4 linked regions of the Homo sapiens genome follow. The protein of the gene in region 2 binds, or shares a complex with, the protein of the main gene of each other region. Each region holds a gene or a part of one and is shown on either strand. Other genes may lie near its edges. The genes, in order: MFAP1, IK, SF3B3 and SMU1.

Region 1 (7,042 bases), on a different chromosome or scaffold from region 2:
AGACACAAAAATTCCAGATGGATTAAAGACGCAACTATGAAAAACTTATCTTAAATATTTACATTCCCTACTGGACTGTAAGCTAACTTATAATCTGTCTTGTATAAGTGTGTATTCAACTCAATTTAATATATACAAACACTCAGAAGATAGAAAACCTTTACAATATGAGTATCTGTGATCTCAGTGCAGGGAAGGATTATTTCTTAAACGATATACAAAAAAAAGCTAAAACCATACAAGATAAAGTTGATAAATCTGATAATACTAAAACTAGAAACGTGTGTAAGAGAAGACTCCATAATTAAAAGACAAGCCAAAAAATGGGGAAACGTATACTATAGATTTGGAATATATAAAAACAAAGCAAACAGAAAGTGGGTAACTGACAGAAACAGGTAATTCATGGAAAAGAAAATCTAGAGAGCTTATTAGACACATGAACAAGATGCCCAGCATCGGCCGGACGCAGTAGCTCTATGGTGAGCCGAGATGGAGCCATTGCACTCCAGCTTGGTCAACAAGAGTGAAACTCTTTCTCAAAAAAAAAAAAAAAAAAAGCCCAGCATCACTAGTAATCAGGGGAATGCAAATTAGAATAATGAGATACCATTTCACACCTGTTAGATTGGGCAAAAAATGTAAAAATCTGATACAACCAAGTGTGTAGATGATGAATATATGGGAAATAAAGCTCTTAGGTTCTCAAAGTTTGTTTTCTTTTTTTTCTTTGAGACAGAGTCTTGCTCTGTTGGCCAGGCTGGAGTGCAGTGGCATGATCTTGGCTCCATGAAACCTCCACCTGCCGGGTTCAAGTGATTCTCCTGCCTCAGCCTTCCAAACAGCTGGGATTACAGGCGTGCGCCATCACACCCGGCTAATTTTTGTATTTTTAGTAGAGACGGGGTTTCACCATGTTGGCCAGGCTGGTCTCAAACTCCTGACCTCAGGTGATCCACCCATCTCGGCCTCCCAAAGTGCTGGGATTACAGGCCTGAGGCATCACGCCCAGCCTTTGTTTTAACAGACAGGGTCTTGATCTGTTGCTTAGGTTGGAGTGTAATGGCACAATCATAGCTCATTGCATCTTTGAACTTTCGAGCATAAGTGATCCTCCTGCTTTGGCTTCCCCCAAGTAGCAGGAGCACATCACTACATCCCGCTAATTTTTAATTATTATTATTATTATTATTTTTGAGACGAAGTCTTGCTCTTGTCCCCCAGGCTGGAGTGCAATGGTGCGATCTCGGCTCACTGCAACCTCTGCCCCCTGAGTTCAAGTGATTCTCCTGCCTCAGCCTACCGAGTAGCTGGGATTACAGGCGCCTGCCACCACACCTGGCTAATTTTTGTATTTTTAGTAGAGACGGTTTCACCACGTTGGCCAGGTTGGTCTCGAACTCTTGACCTCAGGTGATCCACCAGCCTCAGCCTCCCAAAGTGCTGGGATTACAGGCGTGAGCCACCGCGCCGGGCCCTAATTTTTATTTTTGCAGAGATTGGCGGGGGTGGGGGGTGGTCTCGCTATGTTGCCCAAGCTGGTCTTGAACTCCTGGCCTCAAGCGATCCTCCTGCCTCAGCCTCCCGAAGTGCTGAGATTACAGGTGTAAGCCACTGTGCTCCACAAATTCTTATGTTCTTATAACTTACTTTGGGGAGCAATTGGCAACAGGTACTAAATAAAGCTAGTATTGGCTAGAGAATGACAATTGCAGAACTTTCTTTTTTTTTTTTTGAGAGAGTGTCTCACACTGTGGCCCAGGCTGGAGTGCAATGGTGCGATCTCTGCTCACTGCGACCTCCACCTCCCGGGTTCAAGCAATTCTCCTGCCTCAGATTCCCAAGTAGCTGGGATTACAGGTACCCACCACCATGCATGGCTAATTTTTTGTATTTTTAGTAGAGACGGGGTTTCGCCATGATCGCCAGGCTGTCTTGAACTCCTGACCTCAGGTGTTCAGCCCGCCTCAGCCTCCCAAAGTGCTGGGTTTATGGGCATAAGACACCGTGCCTGGCCGCAGCACTTTTTTGAACAAGGGGACAACCACCTGCCTCTCAGTAGGGAATAAAGTGTGGATTACAGTTTATTTTATACAATGGAATTCATAAGCTGTTAAGATGAATGAATTAGATGTATAGGGATCCAAAGATAATTCTCAAAAGCCATGTTGAGACTAGATACGGCGGCATCTACTCGGGAGGCTGAGGCAGGAGGACAGCCTGAGCCCCAGGAATTCGAGTCCAGCCTGGGCAGCATAAGCAGACTTCTATGGACAGCAAAAGAGGGACTGTATCCCGCACAATGCCCTGCCAACAGGCATTCTCTATCTATCTATCTAGTCTGATATTATATACATATTCTGATATATACTTAAGTTCCTAATTATTAGATTAATAATATACTTAAGTTCCTAAGTAATTACACTAATAATACATAAATTCTTGTAATTATATGTAATTAGTGATATTATATTCTAATCATAATATATATTAGACTAATACATATATTCTAGCATATATATATTAGACATATATATTCTGATATATACTTAAGTTCCTAATGTTTTTATATGTGTAATATATATTATATATATGTAACATTAGTCTAAGGAATTTGTGGAGGCTAACAGAAGAGAGGTGCTTGCTGAATACGAGAGCAGGCCACAGGAACAAGATCGGATGCAAGTGGGTGGGGGTGGAAAGATCGAAGAATCTGGCAGCCAGATCTCAAGAGCTGGCGGGGTTGGAGTGGTCTGTCCGGGAGAGGTCTGGAGGTTGCTGGGGCCGGAAGGGGTTAAAATTCGACTGGGAAGAGGGTGTTAGCACCGTACCTTTCTCATTGCGAACTGGGACGGCCCCAGCCGTAGACTGAATGGGCGGTTGCTTCATGAGAGCGCTTGGGACCGACATGTTGATGGCAGCGACGGTGATTCCCGAAACTTGACTAATTCCAAACAGTGAACACCAGCAACGTCAACGAAGAGAAGAAATTCCTTCCACCTGAGTCCGCGAACACAGCTGCGCGACTGATAGAGAAACTACTTACGGCTGAGCTAGATAAACCGGAAATACGTGACGAGAGGATTGTGGGATGGTGGACGACGTTTGGGCGCCCACAGCTAGGAAGTCGAGTCGGTTTCTGCGCATGCTCATTGGCTGCCCGCATGTCCTCTACGTCGCAGAATTTGGAAGCAGCTTTTGGCGGGAAATTTTGCTTCCTTTGGGCTTTGCTGTTAGGACTCTGCGGTGAGGAAGGTTCGAATGAAAGATTTTACGTGTTAGCTTGGTTTGAAGCCAAGAACGGTATAGTGAATAAGAAACTCAGGCGACAGTGAGTTACTGTTTGAATGGCTTGTTGAAAGCTCAGAAGAAGTAGAGTTTGATGGAATAAAAATCTTGCCAGTAGTATCCGATTAGCTTAGTTCATAAGGCCAGGGTGGGCTGTGGTGCGGTATTTGGTTTCACAGGGCAGGTGGTGCTGATTTAGGCCAGTGACCGAAAAAAAAAAAAAAAAAACTCCCGAGGTGCCTGGGACATTGCCCACCTGAAATCCCAAAACTCCACTTTTTTAGGCTTTCAGGTTTTTCCAGTTTCTGGAAACTACCTATTAAAATACATTCCTGGCTAGAAAATGTTTGTATTTAAATATCTAAGTAATTATTATTCTTTTGAGACTGTCTTTTTCTGTCACCCAGGCTGGAGTGCAGTGGCTCGATCTCAGCTCACTGCAGTCTCCACCTCCCGGGTTTAAGCAATTCTCGTGCCTCAGCCTTCTGATTAGCTGGGATTACAGGCGCCTGCCACCACTCCCTGCTGATTTTTGTATTTTTAGTAGAGACGAGGTTTCACCATGTTGGCCAGGCTTAAGTGATCCGCCCACTCCGGCCTCCCACAGTGCTGAGTGTTGGCGTGGGCCACCACTCCCGGCTAATTTTTGTATTTTTAGTAGAGGCAGGGTTTCGCCATGTTGCCCAGGCTGGTCTTGAACTCCTGACCTCAGATGATCCACCTACCTCGGCCTCCCCAAAGTGCTGGGATTACAGAGGTGAGCCACCGCACCCGGCCTATTTAAGAACTCTTTAAGGACTTACAGGATAATAACAGAAGCAGCTCCAATTTACAAGCTGAGTCGTGTTAAAAAATATATATAATATTGGCTAATTGGAAAGTCAGGACACATTTCACAGTAGAAAGGACTTTATAACTGCGGGGGAGACAAGGGACAGTAGGAACAAAGTCTTAAAGTCCAGAAACAGTATGTTTTATACAGGACACCATGAAAAGTTTGGTTTTATCAGTAATTTTTGAGTCATGAGGGGCCTTGAAGTTGCTATTAATATGATTAACCCAAATTACTTCACCTGTGTTCTACAATTGGGCCTTGAGTGGGAGAAGAAATGAAACTGGACAAATCTCAGGCAAGGAACAGTGTGGGACCCAACTAAGCAACCAAGGAAACAGTTTTGGGCTAGAAGGAACCTTAAAGAGAATAGCCAGAATCTTATTTTATTATTTATAGAAGAGGGTCTTGCTCTGTCGCTCAGGCTGGAGTTCCGCGCAATCACGGCTCACTGTGGCCTCATCCTTCTAGGTTCAAGCCATTTTCCCACCCCTGCCTTCTGAGTAGCTGGGACTACAGACGTACAACACCACGCTGGGCTAATTTTTGTATTTTTTATAGAGATGGGGTCTCACTATGTTGCCCAGGCTGGTTTGGAACTCCTGGGCCCAAGTGATCCACTCCTCTCGGCCTCTCAAAGTGTTGGGATTACAGGCGTTAGCCACCGCTCCCGGCCTGTTAGTGTTTTTCAAAGCGACATCCCAGTACCACCAGAATCAAAATCACCAGTCAAAGGTAAAAATGTCAGTTCAGCCCCAGGACATCCCTAAAGAATTTGAGTCTAGGGCTTTAAGACAGCATTTTTTTTTTTTTGAGACGGAGTCTCACTCTTGTTGCCCAGACTGGAGTGCAATGGCGCGATCTCAGCTCACTGCAACCTCTGCCCCCTGGGTTCAAGCAATTCTGCCTCAGCCTCCTGAGTAACTGGGATTACAGGCACGCGCCACCAAGCCCGGCTAATTTTTGTAATTTTAGTAGAGACGGGGTTTCGTCATGTTGGCCAGGCTGGTCTCAAACTCCTGACCTCAGGTGATCCGCCGCCTCAGCCTCCCAAAGTGCTTAGGATTACAGGCGGGAGCCACCGCGCCTGGCCAAGGCGGCCTTCTTAAGAAGCGCGCGTAAAACCCCAACTTCCTGCTCTGGCGCTGCGGCCGCTGGGGATCTGAGTGGGCTCCGCCCCGCCTCGGACCCGCCCCTCCCGGCCTCCCGCCGCAATCTTGGCGGGAAGGCGCCGGCCGCTAAGAAGCCGAAAGATGTCCAGGTCGGGCGCGGCGGCTGAGAAGGCGGACTCCAGACAGCGACCCCAGATGAAGGTGAGAAACGGACTGGTGCTTCCAAGGTGTGCTCCTGCCTCGGTTTTTGTGAGGGTTATGCGGGACACAGGCCCAGGAGGTCGAGGGCACCTGGCACCGGGGGTAGGCGGGGGATCCCTGCCCTTAGGCCTTCAGCTTTGACGAAAGGTTCTTATCAATAACCCGAGAAATAGTGGGAGAGTCACATCTGGGATTCCCTTTCTTCAACCTTCTGCGTTTTCTTCTGCCACAGTTATGATCGGCTTCACACTCTTTAAATAATTCCAGACAATCCGCAGCTGACAGTTGGGGTATTTGCCCCAGTCACAAATGCTAGTCATTATTATTATTGGTCTGGAAAACTTATGGGCAAATGTGCCCAGTAAGTGAATTCTACTGAGGTTAAGGTTAGTGAATTACATATCTAGGATTTTGGAGGGGAAAATAAGTTTTCTTACGAAGGGTGTCAATTTGGATTTATTTATTTTTTTGAGCTTAAGTCTCACTCTGTTGCCCAGGCTGGAGGGCAGTGGTGTGATCTCGGCTCACTGCAACCTCCGTCTCCCGGGTTCAAGTGATTCTTCTGCCTCAGCCTCCTGAGTAGCTGGGACTACAGGCGTGTGCCACTATGCCCAGCTAATTTTTGTATTTTTAGTAGAGACAGGTGGTTTCATTATGTTAGCCAGGATGGTCTCGATCTCCTGACCTCGCGATCTGCCCGATTGGGCCTCCCAAAGTGCTGGGATTACAGGCGTGAGCCACTGCACCTGGCCTCAATTTGGATTTATATTGTCTTTGGGAAATGGGAATTATTAGATCTGTTAGGGATCCTGTAAGAAAAGGCACAGGACTTGGAGTTCTAATATTCTGTTTTCTTTTATTGATCTGAATAGGTAAATGAATATAAAGAAAATCAAAACATCGCTTATGTGTCTCTGAGACCAGCACAGACTACAGTTTTAATAAAAACAGCTAAGGTCTATCTTGCCCCCTTTTCACTCAGTAATTACCAGCTAGACCAGCTTATGTGCCCCAAATCCCTATCAGAAAAGAATTCTAACAATGAAGTGGCGTGTAAGAAGACTAAAATAAAGAAAACTTGCAGAAGGATTATACCTCCAAAGATGAAAAACACATCTTCCAAGGCAGAATCCACGCTGCAAAATTCATCCTCAGCTGTTCATACTGAAAGTAACAAGCTACAACCCAAGAGAACGGCAGATGCGATGAATCTCAGTGTTGATGTGGAAAGTAGTCAGGATGGAGACAGTGATGAAGATACCACACCATCCCTGGTAAGAACTTAATTAGTAGCTTGTTCTGGTTTCTCTTTTTTGAAATTTGAAGTTCTGATAAATCGAAGTTTTTCGAGGATCTCTCTGGTACAAACAAGTTATTTCATCATCTAATGTAAGTATAAATGTAATAATACATTTTTATTATTTTTAAGGTTTAACAAATAACTTCCTTGGGTTATTTTTGCTCTTGCTGTTGATGTGTCAATGAAAGGATTGACTTAATCTTTACTCTGCTTCCTTTTTTCTTTCTCTAAACTAACTGCATATATTTTTGGGTTTAGTCATACTTTATGGTGCCTTTCTCACCTTTACATGTTTATGTACAGTATATC
Region 2 (5,183 bases):
TGCAGGGCCACACTATATCAGCTCTAAACCCAAAGCACTTCCCTAAGGTTACACCTTTAGCCAAGGAGACAGTGATTTGTACTCAACATTAATAAAGCTCATAGTACATAAACTCATAAAAGGTTTTGGTTCCCACCCATAAGTGATTTTCATTAGATGCCTTCATCCAGAGCCCAGTCCTTCATAGCCTGGAGATCAGATTAGCAGCCCATCAGGCTGACAGCAATCCCCAGGAAATCTTTCCCCAGGGACTAGGCCTGAAGATGGGCCGGAATGAGTCTGACATTTGAGACCAATCATACTTACATTCCTCTATCCACCTCTTGCCCATCAGTGAGGATCATTATTCTCTTCTCTACTGGGCACACTGGCTAGAGAGCATCCTTACTGTCTAGGAATCTAGAACCACAGCTCAGGAAAGGACTGATGACTTTCTGCATGTGATTTTACACAACCAGTGGAATTAGTGTTCTTGGTGCTTCAAGGGCACTGGAGGGGACATGCTCAACAAAGAAAATAGCAAGTTAACCAATTTTAATGGAACCAAGTAATTACACAATAAAATTTTATATTCATCCACAAAAAAACATCTTGCAACCTTTGGAAATTGTAGAAAGAAAACAGTGGGGAGCATATCCTTGTGGAGCATCTCTGGTTGTAACTAGTGATTAGTATTTTGGTCTTTTGACTTCAACCCTGCAATGGAAGGAGAAATGGGTCAGTATAAGATCAATACACTAAGCAATTCCCACCAGTCCCACAGAGGAAGAATAATGCCGCTCACCCATCAGCTTCCATCTTCTTCCTCTTCTCAATGATCTGCAAAAACAACAGGATAGTCTATCACCAAGCTGCCCATCTAAGCTCACCTGAGGCCCAAGGCTGACCTCTCATTTCCATGGCTCTCCAGCCCCTTGCCTGTTCCTGAATCTGCAGGCTAATGTCTTCTCCCAGCTGAAACCCTCCCACCCAAGGGGCCATCCTACTTACTGCACTAATCTTCTTCCACTGGCGATCAAGCTCTGCTTTGTCATTGGTTTCCTTGAAGCGCCTGGTTTTCCGCCCTTCAGACATTTTGATACCATACTGGAATGCAGCCCTGAAAAAAGCAGTTGGGAAAGAATGCATCAGAGATTGCATAGCAGTGGCGAGGTTTTCCCAGAGTCCTGTGGGCAAAGAACTTAGTGGGGAACATCTCAGCCAGACCACACCCTCTAACCTTATATGCACTATTCCACCAAATCCCCACACCCCTCCTCACACCCTGCCCATATTCAGTACCGACTCACTTGGGCAAAGCTTCTTTGTTGTTCATATACTCGCTGTATTCTTCCTGGGTATCAAAGTCCCAACGGCCTAAGGGCCCCTTCTTGTTACCCTGTTGCAGGACAGAATCGGGGGATGGGGAAGGAAGAGATGTCAGTGGAAATGGAATTTCAGCCCTTGATTGAAGCCAGACTCTCCCATAATCCCAGGTTCCACAATTCATAAATCATACCCTGATAAGTAATAATAAATGCTTATTACATACTTACTATGTGACAGGCATTATTCTGTACACTAAATGCATATCTCACTTAATTCTCATAAAATCTATGAAGAGGGAACTATATTTCTCTCCATTTTCCTGATGAGGAAACTGAGGCATAAACAGTGAAAGAACTTGGCAAGTTCACAAAACTAATAAACAGTAGAGGCAGGATTAAACAAGGCTCCAAGATTAAACCATGCTATTTCAATACAGTGAACTCAGGGGAAGAACACAGACTTCTTCACTATTAGTGGCATTAGTGGTTTTTTTCTTTTTAATTTTGCTTAAGACTTAGAGGAAAACTTCAATCCTGGCTAGAATAAAATTTAGTTATTTTCCAAAGACTGCAATTTTTTCTGCCCTTTCTACTTATGCATTGATGCTTGCTTACTGCCTACCATGGGAATCAAAGCCTGGCACTTTGCTATAGGAAGTAAAAAATAGATTTTTGACCCTATGTCATTTGATCTTGTGCAAAGACTCTGAAATAGTTAAGCTGCTCATGACCCTCAATGCTGCTGTTTCTACTGCTGCAGCTAAAGGAGGGTGGGGCCCAGTAAATGAGATAGATTTTTTAGGAGTGGGGAAGGAGATACATGTAAAACAAATAATAACTGCCCAAAGGCGCCCACCATCCTTCTAACTACATACCTGGTCCATTTTGCTATAATCCACCTCCTCATCACTATCCACAGCCATGTCATCCATCCTAAGGAGAAGCAAGAGTTAAACAGATGTTGCATACCCTGACCCTATGCTTCATCTGGAAACCTACCCGACTAAGAGGTTATCTGCATAGGAATGACCACCCCCTAGACCTCCCACTTAGAGCCTAATAAAATAGTTCATCCAAGTAAGAAGTAGCCTTGGGCCAGGCGCAGTGGCTCACTCCTGTAATCCCCGCACTTTTGGAGGCTGAGGAGGGCAGATTACCTGAGGTCAGGAGTTCAAGACCAGCCTCACCAACATGGTGAAACCTCATCTCTACTAAAAATACAAAAACTAGCCAGGTGTGGTGATGCATGCCTATAATCCCAGCTACTTGGGAGGGTGAGGCAGGAGAATCGCTTGAACCCGGGAGATGGAGATTGCAGCGAGCAGAGATTATACCATTGCATTCCAGCCTGGGTGACAGAGTGAGACTCTGTCTCCAAAAAAAAAAAAAAAAAAAAAAGAAGTAGCCCTGGGACTTAGCGAATCAAATTTCCATTTCACCCCCAACTTGTTTCCCAATCATCCCAGCCTCCCTTCCTTAACCAGGTTTCACATACGTGGCTGGGTAGCACTCTGCATAACTGTTGGACATGCCAAAGAAATCTCCCAGCTGCTTTTTGTCTTCTGGCTTCTTCAGCATATGCTATGTTAAAGAAAACACTACACAGGATTCTACCTATTGCTGTAAAGCTTCAGCCAGGAGGGGGCCAAGGGCTAGAAGCCCCAACATGAAAATTCTGAGTGGGCTGTGAGCTGTTATGGGTGCTCTGGGAAGGAACAAGGGATGGTTTCATTCTGTCAAAATTCAGCGTAAAAGGGAAGGAGAGGGGCAGGGTAGGAGGGAGCAGGGAGGCAGGGGGGGTTGGAGTAAAGAGACCAGTTCTCTGGAACCCAGGAACGTATTAAAATAAAGGATATGATTCTGTGCCTTCCCAGCCAGCAGACCCAGCAAACTTTTCATTGATGGACTTGATCAACTCCTTGGTAGACCCAGGTCCTAGGAGAAAAGAGAACTCAGCCCAGACCTTGAACTGAGGCTCTCACAACCTCCTCCCCACAACACACTTAAAAAACATTTTTAAGGCATAGAACCCTTTTGTCTAACAAAGTTTTAAACAAACTCCAATTAATGAGTCACTCTGGTTGAGATGAGGGTAGGGTATCCAGAACATTCCATACTTGACCTCTACCTCACCTCCTCAGAACCCCAGGGCCACAGGAATTATATCTAAGAGCAAATATGCCCTGCCATGGCCCAGGAAGGTGGAGGGAACTCCACCTATTCAATAAAGCAAGACACAGTTCTTACAAGAACCCAGAACCAGGAGGTCCCCCAATCCCACCGTTGCCAGCTCTGAGCCCTACCAGGGGAAAGCAGGACTGCTAGAGCAACTGTGAGATGCTGTGTGTACAACTCACCTTTGTCAACGTCCATGGGCTGGAAAGAACACAAAATGTGAAGTTAGTGTTACCATGAGAGATTCCTACTCATCCCTCCCCCAAGTTTGAAACAATTCCTTACCCAACCTTGCTCACATTTCCAGAGAGGGGCAACTCCATCACCTGGTACTAAGGGCCCACATCTCACCTCATCATCTACTTTTGGCTTCTCAAAGTAGCTGTGTCTCTTCTTTTCCTCTTCTCTCTCTCGGTCCCGCTCTCGCTCTCGTTCCCGATCTCGTTCTCGCTCTCGCTCTCGGTCACGGTCTCTGTCTCTTTCCCGATCACGCTCCCGTTCCCGATATCTCTCCCGCTCCTTGTCCCGAGGTGTCTTGGTTGTGGAGGGTACGTAATCCCCAATGTCTTCAAAAATACTGGGAAAATGGAGATCACTAGCTGGCCAAATTCACACATACACCTTCACTCCCCCTGACCATTTCTCCAGATTCTCATGTCAGCACCTCCCCAAAATGCCAGACACAAGAAATGTACAGACCCCCTCCCTCTGATCAGATGCCAGGGGCTAGGATACATACTTCATGTCAGCCTCAGGAGGTTTCTTCTCTTCCAGCTTCCCTGAAATTTAAAGAGAGGAGTCAGGAACATACTCCTCAGTTAATTTCCACTGAACTTCACCATCCTCTCCAGCTCTTAATGCCCTTTTAAACATCTTCTGTTTAAAACGTGGGTCAAGGCTGGGTGCGGTGGCTCACGCCTGTAATCCCAGCACTTCGGGAGGCCAAGGCGGGCGGATCACTTGAGGTCAGGAGTTTGAGACCAGCCTGGCTAACATGGTGAAACCCCATCTCTACTAAAAGTACAAAAAAATTAGCCGGGTGTGATGGCAGGTGCCTGTAATCCCAGCTACTCAGGAGGCTGAGGCAAGAGAATTGCTTAAACCCAGGAGGCAGAGGTTGCAGTGAGCCGAGATGGCATCACTGCACTCCAGCCTGGGCGACAAAACGAGACTCGTCTCAAAATAAATAAATAAATAAAAATAATAAAATAAGGCCAGGAAGAGTGGCTCATGCCTGTAATCCCAGCACTTTGGGAGGCCGAGGTGGGCACATCATAAGGTCAGGAGTTCGAGGCCAGCCAGGCCAATACAGTGAAACCCCATCTCTACTGAAAATACAAAAATTAGCCAGGCGTGGTGATGCGTGCCTATAGTGCCTATAGTGCCTACTTGGGAGGCTGAGGCAGAAGAATCGCTTGACCCCGGGAGGCAGAGGTTGCAGTGAGCAGACATCGCACCACTGTACTCCAGCCTGGGTGACAGAGCGAGACTCCGTCTCAAAAAATAAATAAATAAAATAAAATAAAATGTCGGTCAAGTATTAGAGCCTTTTTAGAATCTGTCTAGGTTTTCTGGTTTTCACCAAAAAATCTCTTTTAAAAAAAATAAATAAATAGGACATAAGCTACCCACTCTCCATCCCTCATGCTTCAGACCTGACCACTGCTTCTTAGGTAGGTTAAGGAGACAGAATCTGGCTGT
Region 3 (7,031 bases), on a different chromosome or scaffold from region 2:
TACCATTTCCTGACCTAAAACCCCTGCTGCCCACTCCCCACCTCTTCATTTTTCAGACTTGGGACCTTCTGATTTTTCCTGAAGTCCCAAGGTTGTGGCTGAGGAAATCAGATGCAGGCTGCAGGCTCTTCTGAAACTGGTGGCAGGCCCTCTGGCAGACTCACCTCACCACCAACCTCACAGCGACAGAGACTGCCTGGTTATAAACTCTCCTCCAACCTCTGGGTGCAGAACAGAGCTGGGAGGTGGTGGTTCATGGTAGGTGCCCAGTAAACGTTTGTGGAAGAAATGAGCGTAGCAGCCTCTTCTAGTGGGTCAGCATGTCTCCTGATGGCTTAAACAGCTCCTGGCCAAGTGCAGTGGCTCACGCCTGTAATCCCAGCGCTTTGGGAGACCAAGGTGGGTGGATCACCTGAGGTCACGAGTTCGAAACCAGCCTGGCCAACATGGTGAAACCCCATCTCTACTAAAAATACAAAAATTAGCCAGGCATGGTGGTGCATGCCTGTAGTCCCAGCTACTTGGGAGGCTGAGGCAGGAGAATTGCTTGAACCCAGGAGGCGGAGGCTGTGGTGAGCCGAGATTGTGCCTCTGTACTCTAGCCTGGGCAACAGAGTAAGACTTCATCTCAAAAAAAAAAAAAAAAAAAAGAAAAAAAAGAAAAAGAAAAAGAAAAAAAAGAGAAACAACTCTTGGTTGTGCTGGTTCAGACTGGTGTGTAGCCTACACCTGCCCATTTCAGTTCACCTGAACTTCACAGGGTGTGTTGGGCTACCAGATCACTCAAATGTCAATCAACCATGGCCAAGCAGGTGTTTTAAGAGTCCCTATCTTGTCCTCGAGAGCCATCTATTCCTTTCCTCCGTTGTGACGTTTTTTGGACCAGGTTTGATTTCAGCAGCAGAGATGTTTCTTCTGAGCTCTACATATAGCCCTTGAAAATTAATTTTAAGGGTGTAATAAAATATTCACATACAATATTCCATATGCAAATGAGCAAGTGGATGACTCAAACACATGTCATTTTTACTTTGAATAGAAAACAGAATTTAGAGGCTGGGCATGGTGGCTCACGCCTGTAATCACAGCACTTTGGTAGGCTGAGCTAGGTGGACCACTTTAGGCCAGGAGTTCGAGACCACCCTGTCCAACATGGTAAAACCTTCTCTACTAAAAATACAAAAATTAGCTGGACGTGATGGCACATGCCTGTAGTTCCAGCTATTTGGGAAGCTAAGGAGGATCGCTTGAGCTCAGGAGATAGAGGTTGCAGTGGGCTGAGATCGCACCACAGCCCTCTAGCCTGGTCAAGAGAGAGAGATTCCATCTCTAATAAACAAACAAACAAAAAAACAAGAATTTATGACCAGGCGCAATGGCTCACACCTATAATCCCAGTGCTTTGGGAGGCCAAGGCAGGAAGATTTTTTGAGGTCAGGAGTTCGAGGCCAGCCTGGGCAACACAGGGAGACCCTGTCTCTACAAAAGTTTAAAAATTAGCTGAGTATGGTGGCACACATCTGTAGTCTCCCCTACTCTGGAGGCTGAGGTGGATTGCTCGAGCCCAGGAGTTCAAGCCTCAGTGAGCTATGATCACTCCACTGCACTCCCAGCTAGGCAAGAGAGAGAGACTGTCTCTAATAAAATTTTTTTTAAAAAATTAAAAAATAAAACAGAACTTAGGAATTAAAAAAAATTTGAAAGCCAGACTGATCCCATCTGAATGCCTTTCTGGCTTTCCTCTAACAAGCTCAAGAAAGGCAGCAGCGTGGGAACAGCACACATTCTGGGGACCAGCACTCTCCCTGTGAGACGAGCCTTTTCCAGCGCCGGCAGCTGTCTCACTAGCAATACATTTACACTAACCAAGAAAAGCAACATTCCAACTAGAACCCCCCTCCTCCAAAGGAATGCTATTCTTGGCAAGAGATCTTCCAAAGGAAACATCTGCAGAACCTCTGCCAGTAAGGTCAGGGGAAAGCTGAGGCAGCTAAAAACTTTTCAGTCCTAGGATCCAAGTCACAAGGGCTTAGCAATGGAACAGGATGGAAGCAAACCCAAGGGCAGATCCCTCTGTCTGAGTTCTGCAGCAGCCTCTGATGGGTTTTGCCAAAGCTGGAGAGAGGTCTCTATTTACCTGGTTGCTCAATCAAACCACAGGAGTCAATCAGGTCCCCTTAACAATTACACAGATGGGACTTGTCATTGAGTCACATCCAATCTAATTTTAAACTTTTGTAGGTCCTGCAGCAACAACTATGAAAATTCCTTTCCACATATTCAAGCCCAAATCCTTGTCCTAGCCCTTCCTCTTAACAGAGAACAAGCAAGCTGATGGGCAGACTTCCAGAGGAAGCTCGGTGGTGACAACTCCTGATTCCATAGATTAGGTTTTCCTTTCTTACATAACCCCCTACCTTCTGTACGGAGTGTATGTATTTTAGTCAAACTTGAGTTAGAAAAGAGGCGAGGAGCTGCTCAAGTATCTACGCTGAGTTCCTCAGATGACTGCATGTCAGTATCACACAATTTGATAGAATGGATTTAGGGCCACAGGAAAAAATGAGCCCTGAAATTAGGTTTTCAAAATCTAATTCAGAACTACTGTCTACTATGCAAATTCATGAGCTAAGTGAGAAAAAAACATGTTATTTAGGGATTCGATTCCTGGCAAAACCTGGGTCTCTCTTGACTGATCTAAAACCAAGTCATGATTCAAGAGATACTTAGTTCCAGGAGACAGTGTCACAGTGTCAGGAACCCTCTGTTCTGGGCTCTGAGAGGTTCAGATTGTATTCCACCATTCCTGATTCTAACCCAGTGCTCACCAGATCATTTGCTCAATTTAGATGGCTGAGCACATGCAGACGAAAGAAAGTTTTACATTTGTGAAGTATTGAGAACAGTGAGCTCACTTCTCCAGGTTCAAGGCGCAAGGACAGCCTGGAAGACGAGGGCTTCCCACACAACTAAACAGGAGGAATTCTCAGGGGTGGGCTGGAACATTTCTGGAACTGGGCCTCTTCCACCTAACAGGCTCTCATTATACCCTAAAGGCCCTCTGGAACCCACCTGAGATGGGTGCTGCAGACAGGCCCCACATATACACAGTTCTCAGGGGCAGGGCAGTATCTAGGTTCTTCTGTACTGACCCTTCCTATGGTCCTATGGAGCCAAAGATCGCTTTAGGTGCTGTATCAGTAAAAGGGGCATCTGTTAAGACTCCCCAGCTAGAATTCATGCTAAAATCCCCATACTAACATCCTCAGAGTAGAAGAGGAGGAAGAATCAGCCACCCTTCCTCAATACCCAGTGGGAAGAGGGGTGGGTATACACATGGTTATTGAGGTCATGTTTCATCAGCACAGCAAAAAGAACCAGGAAAAAACAAAGAAACCACCACAGACCTGGGGGTGGGGAGCCACAGAGTGCCGCAAGTCCAAGTCGGTATCTGGAAGGAAGGAGTCTACTCAGTTCTTCCTGCTCTAACTTGGGTTCAAACCTCCCACCTACATCCTCATCTCCAGAACAAGACACATGGATGCCAGTCACCTTAAAAACTAGGTTTCTATTTCTGGTTAGATTCTAGAGCAGTGGAACTCAGGAGTGATACTATACCCTACCCAGTCCCACCACAGCCTGCCTCCTTCCTCCCACAGAGATAACATTGTACAAAACTGTATTTACAAGAAAACCAATTAAAAATTAAGGGTGTGTGCAAAAGTAGACAGGAGAGTCAAGACATATCAATGCAGGGATGGCTTTGGGGAATGGGGGACTCAGGTTCTACACTGGAACCTGGGGTCATGTATCATGTACCAGGTGGGGAGAAGTGTAGCAAATCTCAGTGCCAATTTGAGGGGAAGCCAGTCATTCCAGGAGAAGAGCTGAGGGGAAAGAGCTGTTGACTTTCATAATGCAGTCTTAATTATCCAGTCACCCTCCTGCCACATGGCAGAAGCCAGGTGGCAGTGATGGTGGTGGGGGAAACAAAACACACAGTCTCTGGCAAGCCCCACCGGGAAAGGAGGGCTCAGAAGGCGTAGCGGGTCCGGATATCCTCGAGTTTCTTGGACACTTCGGGTGGGGTTCGGTCCAGTTCTTCAGAGACGTTCTTTTGTTTGTTGGGTTCCATGGAATTGAACTGCTCACAGAGGTCTCCATCAATCACATTCTAAGATATGGAGAAAGCAGAAAGAAAAAAAATGGTGAGATGCCCAAAGAAAATGGCACATGCTAAAGCAGCACTTGTAGGGAAAGCTGTTTTTATTTTTTAGTTTTTGAGACAGGGTCTCACCCTATCATCCGGGTTGCAGTGCAGTGGGATAATCTTAGCTCACTGCACTCTCAAAATCTGGGGCTCAGCCTCCCGATTGGCTGGGACCACAAATGTGTGCCACCACGCCCAGACCGGGAAAACTTTTTATTCTCCACTCGATACTTGAACCCCACTTGTAGATCCAGGAACACTATCTTAAGTTGACTCTTGGTACTCAGAGTTCAGATTGGCAGAAGCAGGTGAAGCCTTTGCTCTGGCTGTGGTCTGCCCTGAGGGGAGCACCCTCCCTGGTACTATTCCCATCAATCCACTCCCTGTGCTGCTCCTTTCTCAGATCTCCCTTTTCAGCTCAGATTCCCCCAACCTACCTTCACAGGGAAGTAGTAGGAGCGAAAGCTGAGGTGGTCCCGCCCACAGAGAGGGGGATGTTCAGACCGCAGGTGCATTTCCACATGCTGGAAGAAGTCATGGTCCTGGCAGAAGAAACAAAAAATCTGTCACTGAGAAGTGATTTCAACTAGTCTAGAGTTTCCACAAGCACAACGAACAGACAAGCCATTCATTTTTACTACACAAACACACGGGAAATATCTAATCACTTTCTGATAATCACAGGTTTTTCTGCTACAACACGATAGTTAAACCCCAAAAGGAGACCACATGTTGTCTGCAGTGCAAGAGAGAATGCCACACATAAAGAATGGTTTGTGAGGTCAGATTCCTGATCCCAGCTTCCTTGGCTGGAATAAAACATGCCAAACTCTGGCAAACCTAGAGTTGATTCCATATGGCAGTGTGTGCCCCAGGAGGGATCATCCCATCAATCCTGGCAATCCTAGTCTGTGGAGTCCAGTTCTAAAGCTCTGGGCTCAGGCTAACCTTGTAAACTCGCATCAGACTGAAGCAAACCCTGGGACACTATAAAAACAAACGGCCTGGCCGGGCGCGGGTGGCTCACGCCTGTAATCCCAGCACTTTGGGAGGCTGAGGCAGGCGGATCACAAGGTCAAGAGATCGAGACCACCCTGGCTAACACGGTGAAACCCCATCTCTATTAAAAATACAAAAAATTAGCCGGGCATGGTGGCGGGCGCCTGTATTCCCAGCTACTTGGGAGGCTGAGGCAGGAGAATGGCGTGAACCTGGGAGGTGGAGTTTGCAATGAGCTGAGATTGCGCCACTGCACTCCAGCCCGGGTAACAGTGAGACTCCGTCGCAAAAAAAAAAAAAAAAACCAAATGGCCTTCCCTGGGTGCGGGAGAATCAAGATTCCTATCTCCCCAAGTACTTCTGTCACTTTATAATTCCCAGAACATTATTAATTATATGTGGGGACAAATGAATTTGACCTCTTAGGTAGATCCAGCACCAAGAAACAACCTTAAAAGTCAAGGCCAGAGTAATGTGGGCGCTCTCACCTCATGGGACGTGAATGGCACAAGGATGCCAATTCCTCCAGACAAGGTGGTATAGACAAGTGATTCTGAGCCTCCAGGGATCAGCGTGGTCTTCTGCAAGGACAGCACCGTCTCCCCGACATGGTAGTTCATGATCACCTCTGCCTGTGAGTCACAAACAGACTAGTGACTGTGTGCACCCTCAGGAGCCTCCCTGGACTCCCAAGGGCAAGCAGTGCTCCCTAAGGCACATTTCATCATCTATTAACATCCAAAAATTATTATAGAGGCCAACGTGGGAGGATTGCTTGAGCCCAGGATTTCAAGACCAGCCTGGGCAACACAGTGAGGTCTCGTATACCCATACCCACAAAATCTGCCAGGTTTGGTGGCATGTACTATAGTCTCAGCTACTCAGGAGGCTGAGTGGGAAGGATCACTTGAGCCCAGGAGGTGGAAGCTGCAGTGATCTGTGATTGTACCACCACACTCCAGCCCGGGCGACTGAGTGAGACCTTGTCTCAAAAACAAACAATAAATCCAAAAATTATTAAACCCTACAAATATTTTAAAATTCTCACATTTACTTAAAGCTTAATGCCTCATAAAACATGCTAAAGTTACTGTTCATCATTTCTTACGATAAGAATCATTTTGTTAAATTTATCAAGCTTGCCATAAAAAAGGAAAACACAAAGAAAATTATAGAAAACAGCAATCACTAGGCTTGTCTTCTAAAATAGATTTGCCCGAAAGTCCAGAGATGCTCTATTAAAGCAGCACATGCCTACAGGAGAAAGTAAAGCCCAGGACACACCTCAGAGCAGAGGACTGGGAATGGACTCTCTCTAAGAAACTCGCTACTCTCCAAGGAGATTTTTTGCAGATTGGTAAGAAAGGACTGTGGACGGACAGCACTCAGCACAGTCGTGTGCACTATGAATAATTCACCAAAGGCAATTTCTTCAGTGAGGGCAACAGGAAAAGTGCTAAGCAGTGTTCTCCCTGGGGCCCATTCTGCAATCTTACCTTCTGGGAGGCCCCATTGAGCAAGCCACGGTCCCACAGGGCTTTGTTTCCTGTAGGATCCTCATCTACTTCATCATTGGTGTTAGGTGGGAGCCTCACCTACAAGGAAGTGACACAAGTCACACTGCTGGGGCCCGGACCTGCTCACCTGAGTCACCAAGCAACAGGTCTGGCCAGGTCTTTGCAAGTCAGCCACAGGGGCACTGCCTAGACAGAGGCCTGAGCCCACGTGTCCTGCACCTGCTCTGGTGGGCAGGAGCTGTGTCTGAGGAGCAAGAAACTCAAAAGAATCGACCCATGAGCAAGAGTTTAACACAGCTAAGGGT
Region 4 (7,144 bases), on a different chromosome or scaffold from region 2:
GCCTGCAACACAGTATCCCAATGGCCACTGTTAATGTCAGCCACAAAACTCTCAATGCTGTCCACAGTATTCAGAGACACAGTAGTCTCCTCCTGCAAGGTGGCTAACGCCCGATGTAAACTGTTCTCCTTCAAGTACTGCATAATAAGGCGGATCACACTGAAAGAAAACAAATCGTTCAGCTCAGGGATTCTCACTCACCAGAGGTCAAAAATAAAGCCTATCAAGCTCCTACTCAATCATCTTCCTTTCACTACTATTTCTTTATCATGTGAGTAAAATTTTCCAAAATCACAGAATCTAAATTATAAGGGGACCCCCCCTAACCATAGAGACAGAACTGGGGTTCAAGGAAAGGAAATCATTTGCCTAATGTCTCAGTCAGCTAGAAAGGGAGTTGGTGTCAAGGTGACTATCTTATTTCCTAATCCAGAGCCTAGTTTCCTATTCATTCTTGTAATTATATTGTAGCACACTTCACTGAAATACTTTAAATGACTAGACTAGTTATTTATACAAAATAATCTAAATGAGGTTGGGCATGCTGGCTCATGACTGTAATCTCAGTAATTTGGGAGGCTGAGGCAGGAGGATTGGCTGGAAACCAGGAGGTTTGAGACCAGATCAGGCAGCTGTGAGACCCCATCTCTACAAATTTTTTTTTAAATTAGCCAAACATGGTGGCATGTGCCTGTAGTCCCAGCTACTTGGGATGTTGATGTGGGAGGATCCCTTGAGCCCATGAGTTCAAGACCAGCATGGGCAACATAAGAAGACCCCTTCTCTACACACACACACACACAAAAAAAAAAATTAGCTAGGCATGATAGTGTGTGCTTGTGGTCCCAGCTACCTGGGAAGCTGGGGTGGGAGGATTGCTTGTATCCATAAGGTTGAGGCTGCAGTGAGCCGTGATCATGCCACTGCACTCTAGCCTGGGAAAGAGAGCAAGACCTTGTCTCAAAAAAATAAATAAAATAAAACCTATGAGGTAAGTTTACTTTTATCCCCAATTTACAGATGAGGATTTGATCAGATAATAGAGATAATAAGTGGAAAAATCAGGACTCAAACTGGCAGTGTGGCTCTAGAGCATGTATTCCTGAGGAGAAAGCAAACATCCTCTTTTTTTTTTTTTTTTTTGAGAAATGGTCACTTGCATCGCTCAGGCTGGACAGAATAGTGGCGTGATTGTGGCTGACTGCAGCCTGGGCCTCCTGGGATCAGGTGATCCTCTCACCTCAGCCTCCCGAGTAGCTGAGACCACAGGCATGCACCACCACACTGGCTAATTGTTGTATTTTTTGTAGAGACGTGGTTTTGCCATGTTGACCATGCTGGTCTCAAACTTCTGGGCTCAAGTGATCCATCCACCTCAGCTTCCCAAAGTGTTGAGATGACAGGTGTGAGCCACCGCACCTGGCCCCTCTTCTTAAAAACAACTATAGGCCGGCCGCGGTGGCTCACGCCTGTAATCTCACCACTTTGGAAGGCCGAGGCGGGCAGATCACAAGGTCAGGAGATCGAGACCATCCTGGCTAACACGGTGAAACCCCGTCTCTACTAAAAATACAAAAAAATTAGCCGGGCATGGTGGTGGGCGCCTGTAGTCCCAGCTACTCGGGAGGCTGAGGCAGGAGAATGGCGTGAACGTGGGAGGCGGTGCTTGCAGTGAGCGGAGATCGCGCCACTGCATTCCAGCCTGGGTGACAGAGTGAGACTCCGTCTCAAAAAAAAAAAAGGGAACTGATTGCTGCTACCTGCAGTAGTCTTTTTCTCTCATGGCCCCTTTATGAGGTATGCAGGTATCCAGACTTAGACCCCTGTTATTCTGCTATGATACTATCTTCCTTAGCACATGTCCGTTGACTTCCATTTTACACTCCCAAAATAAGTCATCTCTCTCCTCAAACAGCTCACATTTGACATAGCCAAAATCAAATTCCCTACCTTCAAACAGAAATGAATACATAAAGAGCTAGAAGCTTTGAAGATAGTCTGGGATTTGAATCAAAGTTATGTGACCTTGGACAAGTAGGTTAACATCATTTCAGTATTTGCTGAATGCATAAACCTCCCTTCCTCCTATGAAAAGTCTCCAAAAAAGGTCCTCTCCCTCCCTTACACTCAGACACAATTTTTATGTCTGTTAATTTAATTATTATTAAGTGTTGGCAAGGACAGGTGGAGGATGGAGTTCTGGAAAAGCACACTAAGGTCTTCTTTAGTCACTAATTCTCATCCCCTATTCCTTGAAAATTTTTCTTTCTAGCCCAGTCTCCAGTCTGTCTCTCCCCAGACAACCCAAAATTCCGTGCCAGATCGGGCCTGATAGTTGTTCATTCATTCCAAAAGCTAGTTGTTCATTCATTCCAAAAGCAATTAACTCTTCCTCTAAGGTATGCTAGACACTGAGACCACAAGGAAAAGGAGCTCCTAGGCACCGACAAAGGCTAGTTTGGGGTGAGGTTATCAAACAGTGACAATACTGAGTGATAAACGCTAGGCAGAGAAAAGCAAAGGGGCCGTATAAGCAGAGACAACGAATCACATTGCATAAGCTGGACAGGGAGAGAAGCAAGGCTTAAAGAGACCTATCCCCTTGCGCAGATAATTAGACTGGAGTCCAGAGTGGATCCTTAATTTGGTCAATCACAGCGCGCCAGCAGTCGGCCAAGGACAGAACTTAGGTCTGCAAGGTGTGTTTTCCCCACCCGTGCCACCTCCCTCGAGGTTTTGGGCTTCACGTCTGAGAGCTGCTACTTTCCTGTGGGCCCACCTCCGAGGTAGCGAGATCCAAGATGCTTCTTTGGGGGCAAGGAAATGGCCCTCCACTCCCTGGCCTCTCGGATGCCTTCTCCCGAGTACCCTCCGCCCCACACCCTTAACCTCCAGGCCCCCGGCAAGGCGCGAACATCCCCACCGCAGGACTCACTCCGAAGATTCGATTTCGATCGACATAGCCGTATCTCTCCGGGAGCAGGCCCCAGCTCTCCCTCAAGGCCAGTCGCGCAACACACCAACGACACCTCCGGCGGACACCTAACGTCACTTCCGCTTGGGTCGGCGTCTGGCTCCCGCTCTGGAGATAGAGTGAACGAAGAGTAGGGGCGAGGTTCGCGTAGGGGCGGAGCCCTCAGGGGCTGTCAGAGGGCGGAGTTTATGCCCCTGCCCCAGAGAAATACGCATCAGGAGGAAGACTGTTTAAAAGCAGGCCGGAGCCGGGTGCGGTGGCTCACGCTTGTAATCCCAACACTTTGGAAGGCCGAGGCGGGCGATCACCTGAGGTCGTGAGTTCGAGACCAGCCTGACCAACATGGAGAAACCCCCGTCTCTACTAAAAATACAAAATTAGCCGGGCGTAGTGGCGCATGCCTGTAATCCCTACTCGGGAGCCTGAGGCAGGAGAATCGCTTGAACCCAGGAGGCGGAGGTTGCGGTGAGCCGAGATCGCGCCATTGCACCCCAGCATGGAAAACAAGAGCGCAACTCCGTCTCAAAAAAAAAAAAAAAAAAAAAAGAAAGATAGAAAAGAAAAAGAAAAAAAGCACCGGGCGCCATACAGCTCACAAATGTACTGAAAAAGAAAAGCGCTGGGGCGGAGCGCGGTGGCTCGCGCCTGTACTCCCAGCGCGCGAGTTCGAGACCAGCCTGGGCAACATGGTGAAGCCCCGTCTCTACTAAAAATACAAAAAATTAGCCGGGCGTGGTGGCGGGGGCGCCTGTAATCTCAGCTACTCGGGAGTCTGTGGCAGGAGAATCGTTTCACCTCTGGAGGTGGATGCGGTGAGCCGAGATCACACCATTGCACTCCAGCCTGGGCAAGGAGAGCAAAATTCCGTCTCAAAAGAAGAAAAGAAAAGTAGTGGTGATAAGATTGTAGTAAGAAAAGCAAAGAAAAGAAAGAAGAAAAGAAAGAAAAGAAAAGAAAGAAAAGAAAGAGCACTGGTTTGGAAAGATTGCTTTTTTTTTGAGACGGAATCTCGCACTGTCGCCCGGGCTGAAGAGCACAATGGCGCGATCTCGGCTCACTGCAAACTCTGCCTCCCGGGTTCAGGAGATTCTCTTGCCTCAGCCTCCGGAGTAGCTGGGATTACAGGTTTCTTGCCATCACGCCAGGCTAATTTTTTGTATTTTTAGTAGAGATGGGATTTCACTATGTTGGTCAGGCTGTTCTCGAACTCCTGACCTCGTGATCCGCCCGCCTCGGTCTCCCAAAGTGCTGGGATTACAGGCGTGAGTCACTGCGCCCAGCCAATGTTGCTTTCGTTTGATGTAATTAGTTGATTAGATTTAAGATGAGGCTGAATATGCAATACCTGATGGGATATTAATACATTCAAAACCAACATAACACTAGCCAAAATTTATAGGAAGAGTTAATTGAGGATTTTGGTTGGTTGGTTGGTTTTGCGTTTTTTTGAATCAAGGACTCGCTTTGTTGCCCATGCTGGAGTGCAGTGTCTCGATCGTGGCACACTGCAGCCTCGACCCCTCCAGCTCAAGCAATCCTCCCACCTCAGCCACCCAAAGTGCTGGGATTACTGGCATGAGCCACCACGCCCTGTCACGGGACTTTAGGTCAAACACATTATTACATTTGTAGTGACAAATGAAATGTAGAGATATCAGTGAACTTCATACATAAAACCTATTTTTAAATATTTTATTGCTGTTGTATATAAATTGTAAAAATTATTTGCAGCACAGTAATAATAAATCTGGCCAGGCGTGGTGGCTCACGCCTGTAATCTCAGCACTTTGGGAGGCTGAGGCGGGTGGATCACCTGAGTTCAGGAGTTGGAGACCAGCCTGGCCAACATGGTGAAACCCCGTCTCTACTAAAAATAAGAAAATTTGCCAGGCAGATAGGTGTGCATCTGTAATCCCAGCTACTCGGGAGACTGAGGCAGGAGAATCCCTTGAACCCGGGAGGCAGAGGTTGCAGTGAGGAGAGATCGAACCACTGCACTCCACCCTGGGTGACCGAGTGACCAAAAAATAATAAATAAATAAATAAATAAAATAAATCTGTGTTCCGAAATTACATATTGAAATGATGTATTTGTAGATTTCCTGATGGCTTTCAGTCTTATCTGATTCTGTGCCTAAAGGTCTGCCATACAACTTGTCCATAACCTCTTAAATACTGCTTCTTTTGTCAAATCATCCTCTATTTCCTATCAATTCTTGAAGGACATGGTCTCCAAGGTTTCAAATGTTTTAGAGTCTCCATGCTTGCCTTGACATGTAGTGAGATATCAACATGGGTTATATGGTTTATGAGATACTCCTTCACTATTCTATCCCATAACAGCACAAAATTATTATAACTTCTTCCTTGAAAAGAAGACCCAGCTCATCGCAACAATAGCATATGTCCTCATTTTCTCTACCTAGTACTTGTCATGTTACTCTTAAATTCAGGTTACTTCTCTATTTTGTTTATACAAATAAATCTTCTCTATGATTACTTAACACCAGGTTTTATTCTAATATCCACCACACCTCTGCTTTCATTTTGAATGGAATGGCTTCTCTTCTTATGACTCCTATTACATCCAAGCTTGTTCATTATTTATAGATGTGAGCATCTTATTGCTTCATTATGTCTTTTGTAGTAACACCCTAGGATTTTGATATTGAACTACATATTACTCTATTTTATAACAAATTAATTTATTTTTATTTTTCCTATATATTTAGCATTATATTGATTTTTTCATTATCTGCGTAAGTAGATTTTTCTTTCTTTTTTAAGACAGAGTCTCACTCTGTTGCCTAGGCTGGAGTGCAGTGGCACCATCTCAGCTCACTGCAACCTCTGCCTCCTGGGTTCCAGTGATTCTTCTGCCTCAGCTTCCCAAGTAGCTGTGATTACAGGCACGCACCACCATGCCCAGCAAATTTTTGTATTTTTAGTAGAGACGGGTTTCGCCATGTTGGCCAGGCTGGTCTCGAACACCTGACCTCAAGTGATCCGCCCGCCTTGGCCTCCCAATGTGTAAGTAGATTATATTACTTATGAATTTCAGAACACTAAAAGGGATGTTACAAGAGATTTGGAGGTCCTTGAGCCTAATAGTATTGAGAACATGTTAAAGAGATGCCTATTAGTCATTGCTCCAAAATAATAACTCCAATCCCTTAATACTTTTCTTACTCTCCTTTTTTAACCTTGGAAAGATCTTTTAGAAAATAATATATTTTGTGATAAAGAAACATTTACATAAGTTCAACAATTCTTTTGGTTTCACTTCAGTTTCCTTTTATTCAGTCAATTACAGGTACAATTAAATTGATTAATTTTTCTCTAAAAAATAGCACATATTGATTGGCCAGGTGTGGTGGCTCACACCTATAATCCCTGTACTTTGGGAAGCCAAGGTGGGAAAATTGCTTGAGACCAGGAGCTCAAGACAAGGCTGGACAACATAGCAAGAGACCCCTTCTTCACAGAAAAATTAGCCTGGCATGGTGGCACACGCCCGTAGTTCCAGCAACTTGGGAGGCTGAGGCGGGAGGATTGGCTTGAGCCCAGGAGTTTGAGGCTGCAGTGAGCCATGATCGCACCACTGCGCTCCAGCCTGGGAGACAAAGTGAGACCCTGTCTCTAAAGAAAATAATAATAATAATAAAATTAAAATAGGCTAGGCATGGTGGCTCACGCCTGTAATCCCAGCACTTTGGGAGGCCAAGGTGGGTGGATCATCTGAGGTCAGGAGTTCGAGACCAGCCTGGCCAACATAGTGAAACCCCCCCATCTCTACCAAAAATACAAAAATTAGCTGGGCATGGTGGCACATGCCTGTAATCCCAGCTACTCAGGAGGCTAAGGGAAGAGATTCGCTTGAGCCCGGAAGGCGGAGGTTGGCCTGAGACGAGATTGCACCATTGCACTTTAGCCTGGGTGACACAGTGAGACTCCGTCTCAAAAAATAAAAATAAAAATAAAAAAGAAAGAAAGAAAACGTGGGGCAGTGGAGGGTGGGGAGTGTAAACTATACTCTGTCTGCATCACATGCTGCTTGACATAATCCCTGGTGCCAAGTAGCCTGTTTCAAGTCAGAACTTGTTATTTGCTGCTGTGCCCGTGGTTTATGCATTCACGTCAATGTGATCATGGGCACCATTCTTGAGAAAT

Evidence for each region.
Region 1: IK (region 2) and MFAP1 share a complex: the UniProt entries of both Homo sapiens proteins name them as parts of the spliceosome B complex.
Region 3: IK (region 2) and SF3B3 share a complex: the UniProt entries of both Homo sapiens proteins name them as parts of the spliceosome B complex.
Region 4: IK (region 2) and SMU1 share a complex: the UniProt entries of both Homo sapiens proteins name them as parts of the spliceosome B complex.

Annotation. Positions count from the first base shown.
Region 1 is NC_000015.10:43,821,660-43,828,701, forward strand, and holds the start of MFAP1 (microfibrillar-associated protein 1), read right to left. Parts: upstream 3,032-7,042; 5' UTR 2,911-3,031; coding exon 2,832-2,910; intron 1-2,831. Other genes in the region: WDR76 (WD repeat-containing protein 76), read left to right, coding at 5,374-5,433, 6,306-6,707. UniProt on the Homo sapiens protein: Involved in pre-mRNA splicing as a component of the spliceosome.
Region 2 is NC_000005.10:140,657,815-140,662,997, reverse strand, and holds the end of IK (protein Red), read right to left. Parts: intron 4,262-5,183; coding exon 4,222-4,261; intron 4,060-4,221; coding exon 3,834-4,059; intron 3,684-3,833; coding exon 3,665-3,683; intron 3,243-3,664; coding exon 3,164-3,242; intron 2,884-3,163; coding exon 2,803-2,883; intron 2,241-2,802; coding exon 2,183-2,240; intron 1,379-2,182; coding exon 1,290-1,378; intron 1,100-1,289; coding exon 991-1,099; intron 820-990; coding exon 785-819; intron 697-784; coding exon 669-696; 3' UTR 518-668; downstream 1-517. UniProt on the Homo sapiens protein: Involved in pre-mRNA splicing as a component of the spliceosome. Auxiliary spliceosomal protein that regulates selection of alternative splice sites in a small set of target pre-mRNA species. Required for normal mitotic cell cycle progression.
Region 3 is NC_000016.10:70,568,816-70,575,846, reverse strand, and holds part of SF3B3 (splicing factor 3B subunit 3), read right to left. Parts: intron 6,805-7,031; coding exon 6,706-6,804; intron 5,842-6,705; coding exon 5,698-5,841; intron 4,753-5,697; coding exon 4,648-4,752; intron 4,175-4,647; coding exon 4,034-4,174; 3' UTR 1-4,033. UniProt on the Homo sapiens protein: Component of the 17S U2 SnRNP complex of the spliceosome, a large ribonucleoprotein complex that removes introns from transcribed pre-mRNAs.
Region 4 is NC_000009.12:33,073,648-33,080,791, forward strand, and holds the start of SMU1 (WD40 repeat-containing protein SMU1), read right to left. Parts: upstream 3,028-7,144; 5' UTR 2,962-3,027; coding exon 2,936-2,961; intron 160-2,935; coding exon 1-159. UniProt on the Homo sapiens protein: Involved in pre-mRNA splicing as a component of the spliceosome. Regulates alternative splicing of the HSPG2 pre-mRNA. Required for normal accumulation of IK.